Linked DNA regions of Homo sapiens: region 1 is linked to region 2. The links come from fine-mapping of genetic effects on gene expression. A gene starts in region 2. The other region holds a variant in brackets. All regions are shown on one strand. Distances are between the middles of the regions.

Region 1 (5,227 bases), 52 kb before region 2:
TTGTCAGGTTTGTCAAAGATCAGATGGTTGTAGATATGTGGTATTATTTCTGAGGGCTCTGTTCTGTTCCATTGGTCTATATCTCTGTTTTGGTACCAGTACCATGCTGTTTTAGTTACTGTAGCCTTGTAGTATAGTTTGAAGTCAGGTGGCATGATGCCTCCAGCCTTGTTCTTCTGGCTTATGATTTCCTTGGCAATGTGGGCTCTTTTTTGGTTCCATATGAACTTTAAAGTAGTTTTTTTCAATTCTGTGAAAAAAGTCATTGGTAGCTTGATGGGGATGGCATTGAATCTATAAATTATCTTGGGCAGCATGGCCATTTTCATGATACTGACTCTTCCTATCTGTGAGCATGGAATGTTCTTCTATTTGTTTGTGTCCTCTTTTATTTTGTTGAGCAGTGGTTTGTAGTTCTCCTTGAAGAGGTCCTTCACGTCCCTTGTAAGTTGGATTCCTAGGTATTCTCTTTGAAGTAATAGTGAATGGGAGTTCACTCATGATTTGGCTCTCTGTTTGTCTCTTATTGGTGTATAGGAATGCTTGTGATTTTTTCACATTGATTTTGTATCCTGAGACTTTGCTAAAGTTACTTATCAGCTTAAGGAGATTTTGGGCTAAGACGATGGGGTTTTCTAAATATACAATCATGTCATCTGCAATCAGGGACAATTTGATTTCCTCTTTTCCTAACTGAATACCCTTTATTTCTTTCTCCTGCCTGATTGCCCTGGTCAGAACTTCCAACACTATGTTGAATAGGAGTGGTGAGAGAGGGCATCCCTGTCTTGTGCCAGTTTTCAAAGGGAATGCTTCCAGTTTTTGCCCATTCAGTATGATATTGGCTGTGGGTTTGTCATAAATAGCTCTTATTATTTTGAGATACGTCCCATCAATACCTAGTTTATTGAGAGTTTTTAGCATGAAGGGCTGTTGAATGCTTTTTCTGCATCTATTGAGATAATCATGTGGGGCTTTTTTTTGGTTTTTGTTTTTGAGACAGAGTCTCGCTTTGTTGCCCAGGCTGGAGTGCAGTGGCGCGATCTTGGCTCACTGCAAGCTCCGCCTCCCAGGTTCACGCCATTCTCCTGCCTCAGCCTCCCGAGTAGCTGCAACTACAGGCACCCACCACCACACCCAGCTAATTTTTTGTATTTTTAGTAGAGATGGGGTTTCACCATGTTAGCCAGGATGGTCTCAATCTCCTGACCTCGTGATCTGCCCACCTTGGCCTCCCAAAGTGTTGGGACTACAGGTGTGAGCCACCGCTCCCAGCCCCAATCATGTGGTTTTTGTCTTTGGTTCTGTTTATATAATGGATTACGTTTATTGATTTGCATATGTTAAACCAGCCATGCATCCCAGGGATGAAGCCAACTTGATCATGATGGATAAGCTTTTTGATGTGCTGCTGGATTCAGTTTGCTAGTATTTTATTGAGCATTTTCACTTCAATGTTCATCAGGGATATTGGTCTATAATTCTCTTTTTTTGTTGTGTCTCTGCCAGGCTATGGTATCAGGATGATGCTGGCCTCATAAAATGAGTTAGGGAGAATTCCCTTGTTTTCTATTGATTGGAATAGTTTCAGAAGGAATGGTACCAGCTCCTCTTTGTACCTCTGGTAGAATTCGGCTGTGAATCCATCTGGTCCTGGACTTTTTTTGGTTGGTAGGCTATTAATTATTACCTCAATTTCAGAGCCTGTTATTGATCTATTCAGGGATTCAACTTCTTCCTGGTTTAGTCTTGGGAGGGTGTATGTGTCCAGGAAGGTAGATTTTCTAGTTTATTTGCACAGAGGTGTTTATAGTATTCTCTGATGGTCATTTGTATTTCTGTGGGATTGGTGGTGACATCCCCTTTATCATTTTTTATTGAGTCTATTTGATTCTTCTCTCTTTTCTTCTGTATTAGTCTTGCTAGTGGTCTATCAATTTTGTTGATCTTTTCAAAAAACCAGCTCCTAGATTCATTGATTTTTTGAAGGGTTTTTCATGTCTCTATCTCCTTCAGTTCTGGCTCTGATCTTAGTTATTTCTT[A/G]CCTTCTGCTAGCTTTTGAATGTGTTTGCTCTTGCTTCTCTAGTTCTTTTCATTGTGATTTTAGGGTGTCAATTTTAGATCTTTCCTGCTTTCTCTTGTGGGCATTTAGTGCTATAAATTTCCCTCTACACACTACTTTAAATGTGTCCCAGAGATTCTGGTACGTCATGTCTTTGTTCTCATTGGTTTCAAAGAACATCTTTATTTCTGCTTTCACTTAGTTATTTACTCAATAGCCATTCAGGAGCAGGTTGTTCAGTTTCCATGTAGTTGAGTGGTTTTGAGTGAGTTTCTTAATCCTGAGTTCTAATTTGATTGCACTGTGGTCTGAGAGACAGTTTGTTATAATTTCTGTTCTTTTACATTTGTTGAGGAGCGCTTTACTTCCAACTATGTGGTCAATTTTGGAATAAGTGCCATGTGGTGCGGAGAAGAATGTATATTCTGTTGATTTGGGGTGGAGAGTTCTGTAGAAGTCTATTAGGTCTGCTTGGTGCAGAGCTGAGTTAAAGTCCTGGATATCCTTGTTAACTTTCTGTCTCATTGATCTGTCTAATGTTGACAGTGGAGTGTTAAAGTCTCCTATTATTATTGTGTGGAAGTCTAAGTCTCTTTGTAGGTCTCTAAGGACTTGCTTTATGAAGCTGGGTGCTCCTGTATTGGGTGCATATATATTTAGGATAGTTATCTCTTCTTGTTGAATTGATCCCTTTACCATTATGTAATGGCCTTCTTTGTCTCTTTTGATCTTTGTTGGCTTAAAGTCTGTTTTATCAGAGACTGGGATTGCAACCCCTGCTTTTCTTTTGCTTTCCATTTGCTTGGTAGATCTTCCTCCATCCCTTTATTTTGAGCCTATGTGTGTCTCTGCACATGAGATGGGTCTCCTGAATACAGCACACTGATGATGCGTCTTGACTCATTATCGAATTTGCCAGTCTGTGTCTTTTAATTGGGGGCATTTAGCCCATTTACATTTAAGGTTAATATTGTTATATGTGAATTTGATCCTGTCATTATGATGTTAGCTGGTTATTTTGCTTGTTAGTTGATGCAGTTTCTTCCTAGCATCAATGGTCTTTACAATTTGGCATGTTTTTCCAGTGGCTGGTACCAGTTCTTTTTCATGTTTAGTGTTTCCTTCAGGAGCTCTTGTAAGGCTGGTGGTGACAAAATCCCTCAGCATTTGCTTGTCTGTAAAGGATTTTATTTCTCCTTCACCTATGAAGTTTGGCTGGATATGAAATTCTGGGTTGAAAATTATTTTCTTTAAGAATGTTGAATATTGGCCCCCACTCTCTTCTGGCTTATAGAGTTTCTGCTGAGAGGTCCGCTGTTAGTCTGATGGGCTTCCCTTTGTGGGTAACGCGACCTTTCTCTCTGGCTGCCCTTAACATTTTTTCTGTCATTTCAACCTTGGTGAATCTGACAATTATGTGTCTTGGGGTTGCTCTTCTCAAGGAGTATCTTTATGGCATTCTCTGTATTTCCTGAATTTCAATGTTGGCCTGCCTTGCTAGGTTGGGGAAGTTCTCCTCGATAATATCCTGAAGAGCGTTTTCCAACTTGGTTCTCCCCGTCACTTTCAGGTACACCAATCAGACGAAGATTTGGTCTTTTCACATAGTCCCATATTTCTTGGAGGATTTGTTCGTTTCTTTTAACTCTTTTTTTCTCTAAACTTCTCTTCTCACTTCATTTCATTCATTTGATCTTCAGTCACTGATACCCTTTCTTCCATTTGATCAAATCGGCTGCTGAAGCTTATGCGTGCATCATGTAGTTCTTGTGCCATGGTTTTCAGCTCCATCAGGTCATTTAAGGTCTTCGCTACGCTGTTTATTCTAGTTATCCATTTGTCTAATCTTTTTTCAATGTTTTTAGCTTCTTTGCGATGGGTTTGAACATCCTCCTTTAGCTCAGAGAAGTTTGTTTTACTTACTGATCTTTTGAAGCCTACTTCTGTCAACTTGTCAAAGTCATTCTCCGTCCAGCTTTGTTCCATTGCTGGTGAGGAGCTGCATTCTTTTGGAGGAGAAGAGGTGCTCTGACTTTTAGAATTTTCAGCTTTTCTGCTCTGGTTTCTCCCCATCTTTGTGGTTTTATCTACCTTTGGTCTTTGATGATGGTGACCTACAGATGGGGTTTTGGTGTGGATGTCCTTTTTATTGATGTTGATCCTATTCCTTTCTGTTTGTTAGTTTTCCTTCTAACAGTCAGGACCCTCAGCTGCAGGTCTGTTGGAGTTTGCTGGAGGTCCTCTCCAGACCCTGTTTGCTGGGGTATCACTAGCGGAGGCTGCAGAACAGCAAATATTGCAGAACAGCAAATGTTGCTGCCTGATCCTTCCTCTAGAAGCTTCGTCTCAGAGGGGCACCCGGCTGTATGAGGTGTCAGTCGGCCCCTACTGGGAGTTGTCTCCCAGTTAGGCTATTCGGGGGTCAGGGACCCACTTGAGGAGGCAGTCTGTCAGTTCTCAAATCTCAAACTCCGTGCTGGGAGAACCACTACTCTCTTCAAAGCTGTCAGACAGGGACGTTTAAGTCTGCAGAAGTTTCTGCTGCCTTTTGTTCAGCTGTGCCCTGACCCCAGAGGTGGAGTCTACAGAGGCAGGCAGGCCTCCTAGAGCTGCAGTGGGCTCCACCCAGTTCAAGCTTCCCGGCCGCTTTGTTTACCTAGTCAAGCCTCAGCAATTGCAGACGCCCCTCCCTCAGCCTCACTGCCACCTTGCAGTTCAATCTCAGACTGCTGTGTTAGCAGTGAGCAAGGCTCCATGGGCATGGGACCCTCCCAGCCAGGCATGGGATATAATCTCCTGGTGTGCCGTTTGCTAAGACCATTGGAAAAGCGCAGTATTAGGGTGGGAGTGTCCCGATTTTCCAGGTACCGTCTGTCACGGCTTCCCTTTGCTAGGAAAGGGAATTCTCCGAACCCTTGTGCTTCCAGGGTGAGGCGATACCCCGCCCTTCTTTGACTCACACTCACATGGGCTGCACCCACTGTCCAACAAGTCCCAGTGAGATGAACCTTGTACCTCAGTTGGAAATGCAGAAATACCCATCTTCTGTGTCACTCACACTGGGAGCTGTAGACTGGAGCAGTTCCTATTCGGCCATCCCTTTCTAACTCTTAAACACTGACAGCAATTAAAGCCTCATCTTCAGGCCCCATAGAAGATGCCAAT
Region 2 (5,227 bases):
CATTTGAAAAGATGCTCAACATAATAAGTCGTTAGGGAAATGAAAATCAAAACCACAATGAGGTATCACTTCACACCTACTAGAAAGGGTAATAATTCAAAAGATGGACAATAACAAGTGTTGGCAAGGATGTGGAGAAATTGAAAATCATATCTTGCTGGTGGGAATGTAAAATGATGCAGCCACTTTGGAAAACATCTGGCACATCCTAAAAAGTTGAAGAGTTACCATATGACCTAGCAATTCCACGTCTAGGTATATTCCCTACCTGAGAGAAATGAAAACATACTTCCACACAAAGCGTGTACATAAATGTTCATAGCAGCATTATTCATAATAGTCAAAAATTGAAACAACCCAAATGTTCATCAATTGATAAAATATATCCAAACAATGGAATTATATCCATCAAAAGGAATGAAGTATTGATATATGTTACAATGTGAATGAACCTTAAAAACATTCTAAGTGGAAGAATCCAGTCACAAAAAACCCACGTTGTATTAGTGTGTTAATATGAAATGTGCAGAATAAGCAAATTTACGGGTAGAAGTAGATTAGTGGTTTACCAGGCCAGCATTAAGAGGCAGGAAGAAATGGGAAGTGACTACTATTAGTTATGATGCTTTTTTGGGGGCAATGAAAATGTTCTAAAATTGTGGTGATGGCTCCATAACTAAGAATATACTAATATACGAATATATTAGTATACTAATATCGAATTTGCTAAAAACAACAATTTTTTTTTTTTTTTTTTTTTTTGGAGAGACAGAGGTCTTGCTGGTTTGGAACTCCTGACCTAAAGCGATCCTCCTGTCTTGGCTTCCCCTAACACTGGGATTACAGGTGTGAGCCATCGTGCTTGGCCCAGATACTTCAAATGGGTGAATCTTTTGGAGATTCCTAAAATCCACATTTGATGAATGTGGATTTTTCAAAACTGTGTAAAATATCCATTACCTTTCTAAGATCACTTCTTTCCTTTAGTCTGCTTAAATGGAAAAGCTGGTAATTTCATCTGCGCCAACATTCATACAAAATAAAAATATAGTCTGTATTTAAAAGCAGCTTTTGTTCATATGCTTTAATTATTTCATTTACTAACACATCAAGGCTTGCTGAAGCAAAATAACTGGCCCGTAATCAAAAAGCAAATAAGAGTCATCTGGATTTCAACTCTGGTTGTCTTAAGCCAGCCTCAGCCTGCATTTCATGACATCCTTAGGGAACTCAGTGTGGATATGGATGAAACCATATAAACACGGAAGCTGTTTTCAACGTGCTTTAGAAATTATAACACAGCAATCATTCTGGCTACAATGTGGCAGGCACCGTACTCAACACTTTATTCACAAGGTGTTATTAGTTCATCACAACTCTAAGTATTAAGCTAATTCACAAACTAGAAAGATGAAACAGAAAGATACCAGGAATTCGTGCAGTTAAATGGAATACATCTAGTCCCAATGATCCACAGTATCGTCAAAACATAGCTAAGTTGGGGGCGAGGAAGCAAGCTTAGTAATCATCCAAACTTGGCTTAAAGTGTGGTTCTGACTGAATTCTCTGAGCTTCAATTTACTTAACTGTGAATCAAGGGTAGTAACAATGACCGCGTTCGACGATGGGAAAGACGCCACGCTCACAAGCAGACAGATCCTAGTACACCTGAAATCCAACCGGGAGTGGGGGACAGCGGCGGGGAAGTGGGGGTGTGGAAAAGACTGGTGGAAGAGCTTTTAGGAAAGCTCTCACCCCGTCGCTAGCTCCTTCCTAGCCCGAGTGCCAGCCCTTAACTTCACATTTTACAGATTCCCTCCCAGGTCTTGATCCTGCCAAGGAGGAGGGTCCCACCCCTTGCGGAAGATCCTCCTCACTCCACTCACCAACATGGGGACTCCATAGCCGAGAGTCTTGTTCTTGCGAAAAGCACGCATCACCGCGGGTGCAAACATGAGTGAACTCTTCCATCGGCTCAGAACTCCAAGCGGGCCTAGCGCAGACTCCCAAATCTCAGCAGCTCACGCTCTCACCAAGACGAGTACGTCCTTAACTCACTTCCTTTTCCTTGGTTATTTGGTGCTCGGTCCTTAGTGAATGGTTTCCGCTAGGCAAAAGCAATCGAGCCATCGTAACATACTTGTGCGTCCGCCCAGAAATGTGGGCGTCAGCGTTTTTGGTTCCGTAACGTCGGCGTGCAATTGGGATTTAGAGATTTGAATCGGTTTACGATCACCACCAAATTGATCTGGAAACCAGTACTTCCCACGTTCTGGGTCCTAACTAACGTCTGCTTAGAACACTCCCTTAGGCACATAGCCACTCGATAAAATCAGCTAAGGAAAAAAGTATTTTGAGGCCGGGCGCGGTGGCCTGGGTGGGTGGCCTGTAATCCCAGCACTTTGGGAGGCCGAGGCCGGTAGATCACCTGAGGTCAGGAGTTCTAGATCAGCCTGGTCAACATGGTAAAACCCCGTCTCTATTAAAAAAAAAAAATACAAAAATTAGCCGGGCGTGGTGGCAGGCGCCTGTAATCCCAGCTACTGGGGGGCCGAGGCAGGAGAATCGCTTGAACCCGGGAGGCGGAGGTTGCAATGAGCAGAGATCGCGCCATCGCACTCCAGCCTGGGGAACAAGAGCGAGACTTCGTCTCAAAAAGAAAAAAGAAAAAAAAGTATTTTGAAGCTGGTACTCCAGTCTTTATGGCTATTTGTGGGATGAGGAATTTGCCAGTTTAATGGAGACTTTTAAAAATAAATCGCTTTTGAAAGATTAGGTTGAAATGTAATCAGTGTAGTGTCTCATCAGTCATTACTGAACTTTTAATGCTAATGATTTTACTGTGAGATAACCTGTAATCTTTAGTCATTTATGAATGTCTATTTACCAATGATTCAGCAACCATACAGGCCACCTTTCAGCGTGTCTTTGAAAGGGTTCTAGGAACACAGATAAAAATATATGATCCTTACCTTAAAGACACTGGCGATTTCATGGGCACAGAAACAAACATGTGTGAAGTACTGGGATAGCTTAGGAAGCCGATCCCCCACGTGTCCCATTTACCAGAGTGAATCAGAGTGCAGGTGATGCGGAATATTATCTTCCATGCTATTCCTGAAATATTTCCATCTGTCCCTGCCTCTCTGTTACCACTGAAATGTTCCTTTTTTTAATTCCTTATCATCTTTTCACCTATTAAAGTAGCCTCTTAAGTGGTCTCCAGAAGAGAAGCTCCAGATCTACTGCAGGCTACTCCAGTGAAACTTATCCTTTTGGCTAAGATCAAGTGTAGTATCTGTTCTTAACAGTTTAATATTTGACACATTCTCTATCCAAGGAAAATATGTTAAATGGGTTTTTGAAGCAAGGAGATGGAATAGGAGTTTGCTCCACCACTCTACACATCAACCTGTATTTCAATACCTCCAGAAACCCAGGAACGGTGCATCTCTCCCATCTTATTTACTTCCTTTTGATATTTCAAAATTCATGCAGACCAGGCATGGTGGCTCATGCCTGTAATACCTGCAGTTTGGGAGGCTGAGGCAGGAGGATCATTTGAGCCCAGGAGTTCGAGACCAGCCTGAGCAACAAAGCAAGACCCCATCTTTACAAATAATAATAATAATAATAAATTAGCCAGGCATGGTGGGGTCTCAGCTACTTGGGAAGCTGAGGTGGGAAGATCACTTGAGCCCAGGAGGTCCAGGCTACAGTGAGCCGTGATCATGCCACTGCACTGCAGCCTGGGTGACACAGCTAGACCCTGTTTCAAAAATAAATAAATAAATCTCACGTGGCATCCAGGTTAGTTAAGCGTATCACATCTCCTACTTTCCCTAAGATCCTAGAAGCCAAAGGCGCTGCTCTAAAACTCTAGCGTTTTCCTACATCTTCACTACATAAAACATCAGCCTACTGGATACTACTCCATCAAAACCCGGCACCTAAGTAGTAGCTAATAATGGGTTAAATCGTATACATATATTCAAAATAATGCTAGAGTCGATAATCTTACACTTTTCAGATAAGGCATCTATCCAATTTAAGGCACTCTATGTCTTTAGTATCTTGTTTGTTCAATCACTCAAATAAGCATTTATTGAGAACCTTGAAATGGCCCTGAAGGAGTAACTGTGAACAGTAGGAATTACAGGTATGCCGGCAGATTGTCAGGGGACAAAATCTGTGACACTGAGGAATGTAAGCACCTATCAAATCATACTACATAGGTGGTAAATTTTACCAGCTATGCATAGCGCCCTTCTTAAGCATCACTACTGTATACTTCAGTTTTTCCATCTGTTAAATCGGAATGAGTGATATTTGTCATCAGTTTACGATTCTCACAAAAAGGGAACACAAAATTTCTTACCAGTATGGAATCTGTTGCCTTCCCAGAAATATGACTCAAATTCCATGTGTTTCCATTGTTAATAAACAGTTAAAATGCTGACTCAGCTATCTTAACTGTAAGAAGTTACAAAAAATGTATATTCAGGAAATGGGGCATCTCCACCATCTATGCCAGTCCCTGAGGACTGGTATGTACTTGATATCCAGGCAGGTTATATTATCCTCTAGTATCTGCTCTACCAGCATTTAACTCATGCAAGTACATGGGAGCGTTGTTATAAAACAAAAACAAAAACACCAGTCTTCTTGAGAGCTTTAGTCCTGAAGTTAGGTTTTAGAATTATGGCCAGAACTGGCCAGCCACAGTGGCTCATACCTGTAATCCCAGCACTTTGGGAGGCCGAGGCGGGCAGATCACCTGAGGTCAGGAGTTTGAGACCAGCCTGGCCAACATGGTGAAACCCTGTCTCTACTAAAACTACAAAAATTAGCCGGGCATGAAGGCGCATGACTGTAATCCCAGCTACTCGGGAGGCTGAGGCAGGAGAATCACTTGAACTCGGGAGGTGGAGGCTGCAATGAGCCGAGATGGTGCCACTGCACTCCAGCCTGGGCAACAGAGCAGAATTATGGCCAGAATTCATGGCTATGGTAATCGAAAGATTAGTTACTTCATGAATCTTTGTTTACTTTGATAATGCCATTGAATCTACTAATTGTTTTTTTTTTTTGAGACAGGTTCTGCTATATTGTTCAGGCTGGTCTTGAACTCCTGGGCTCAAACAATCCTCCTGCCTTGGCCTCCTAAGTAGCTGGGACTACAGGTGTGTGCTACCATGCTTGGCTTACCATCTAATTTGATTCACTC

Which allele goes with the higher level. Positions count from the first base shown, and alleles are read on the strand shown. Sizes are in standard deviations (SD) of each study's normalised expression.
For the expression in lymphoblastoid cells of the gene that starts at base 2,051 in region 2, A is the low allele of the variant in region 1 and G is the other (moderate effect, 0.56 SD a copy in GTEx).

The links.
Region 1: its variant is fine-mapped to the expression of COX16 in lymphoblastoid cells (GTEx, PIP above 0.99).

The regions. Positions count from the first base shown.
Region 1 is chr14:70,306,037-70,311,263 of GRCh38, forward strand. The region is part of intron 4 of LOC101928046 (a long non-coding RNA gene); the gene reads left to right. Among named protein-coding and RNA genes, the nearest start is that of COX16, 51 kb to the right of the region's middle. The variant A/G (reference allele first, on the strand shown) is at 2,044.
Region 2 is chr14:70,357,633-70,362,859 of GRCh38, forward strand. COX16 (cytochrome c oxidase assembly factor COX16) reads right to left here and starts at 2,051. Exons shown (of 4, transcript NM_016468.7): 1 at 1,887-2,051. The coding sequence starts at 1,955. The region is part of intron 3 of SYNJ2BP-COX16 (SYNJ2BP-COX16 readthrough); the gene reads right to left. It also overlaps the pseudogene RNU2-51P. RefSeq lists enhancers at 1,771-2,080, 2,541-2,630.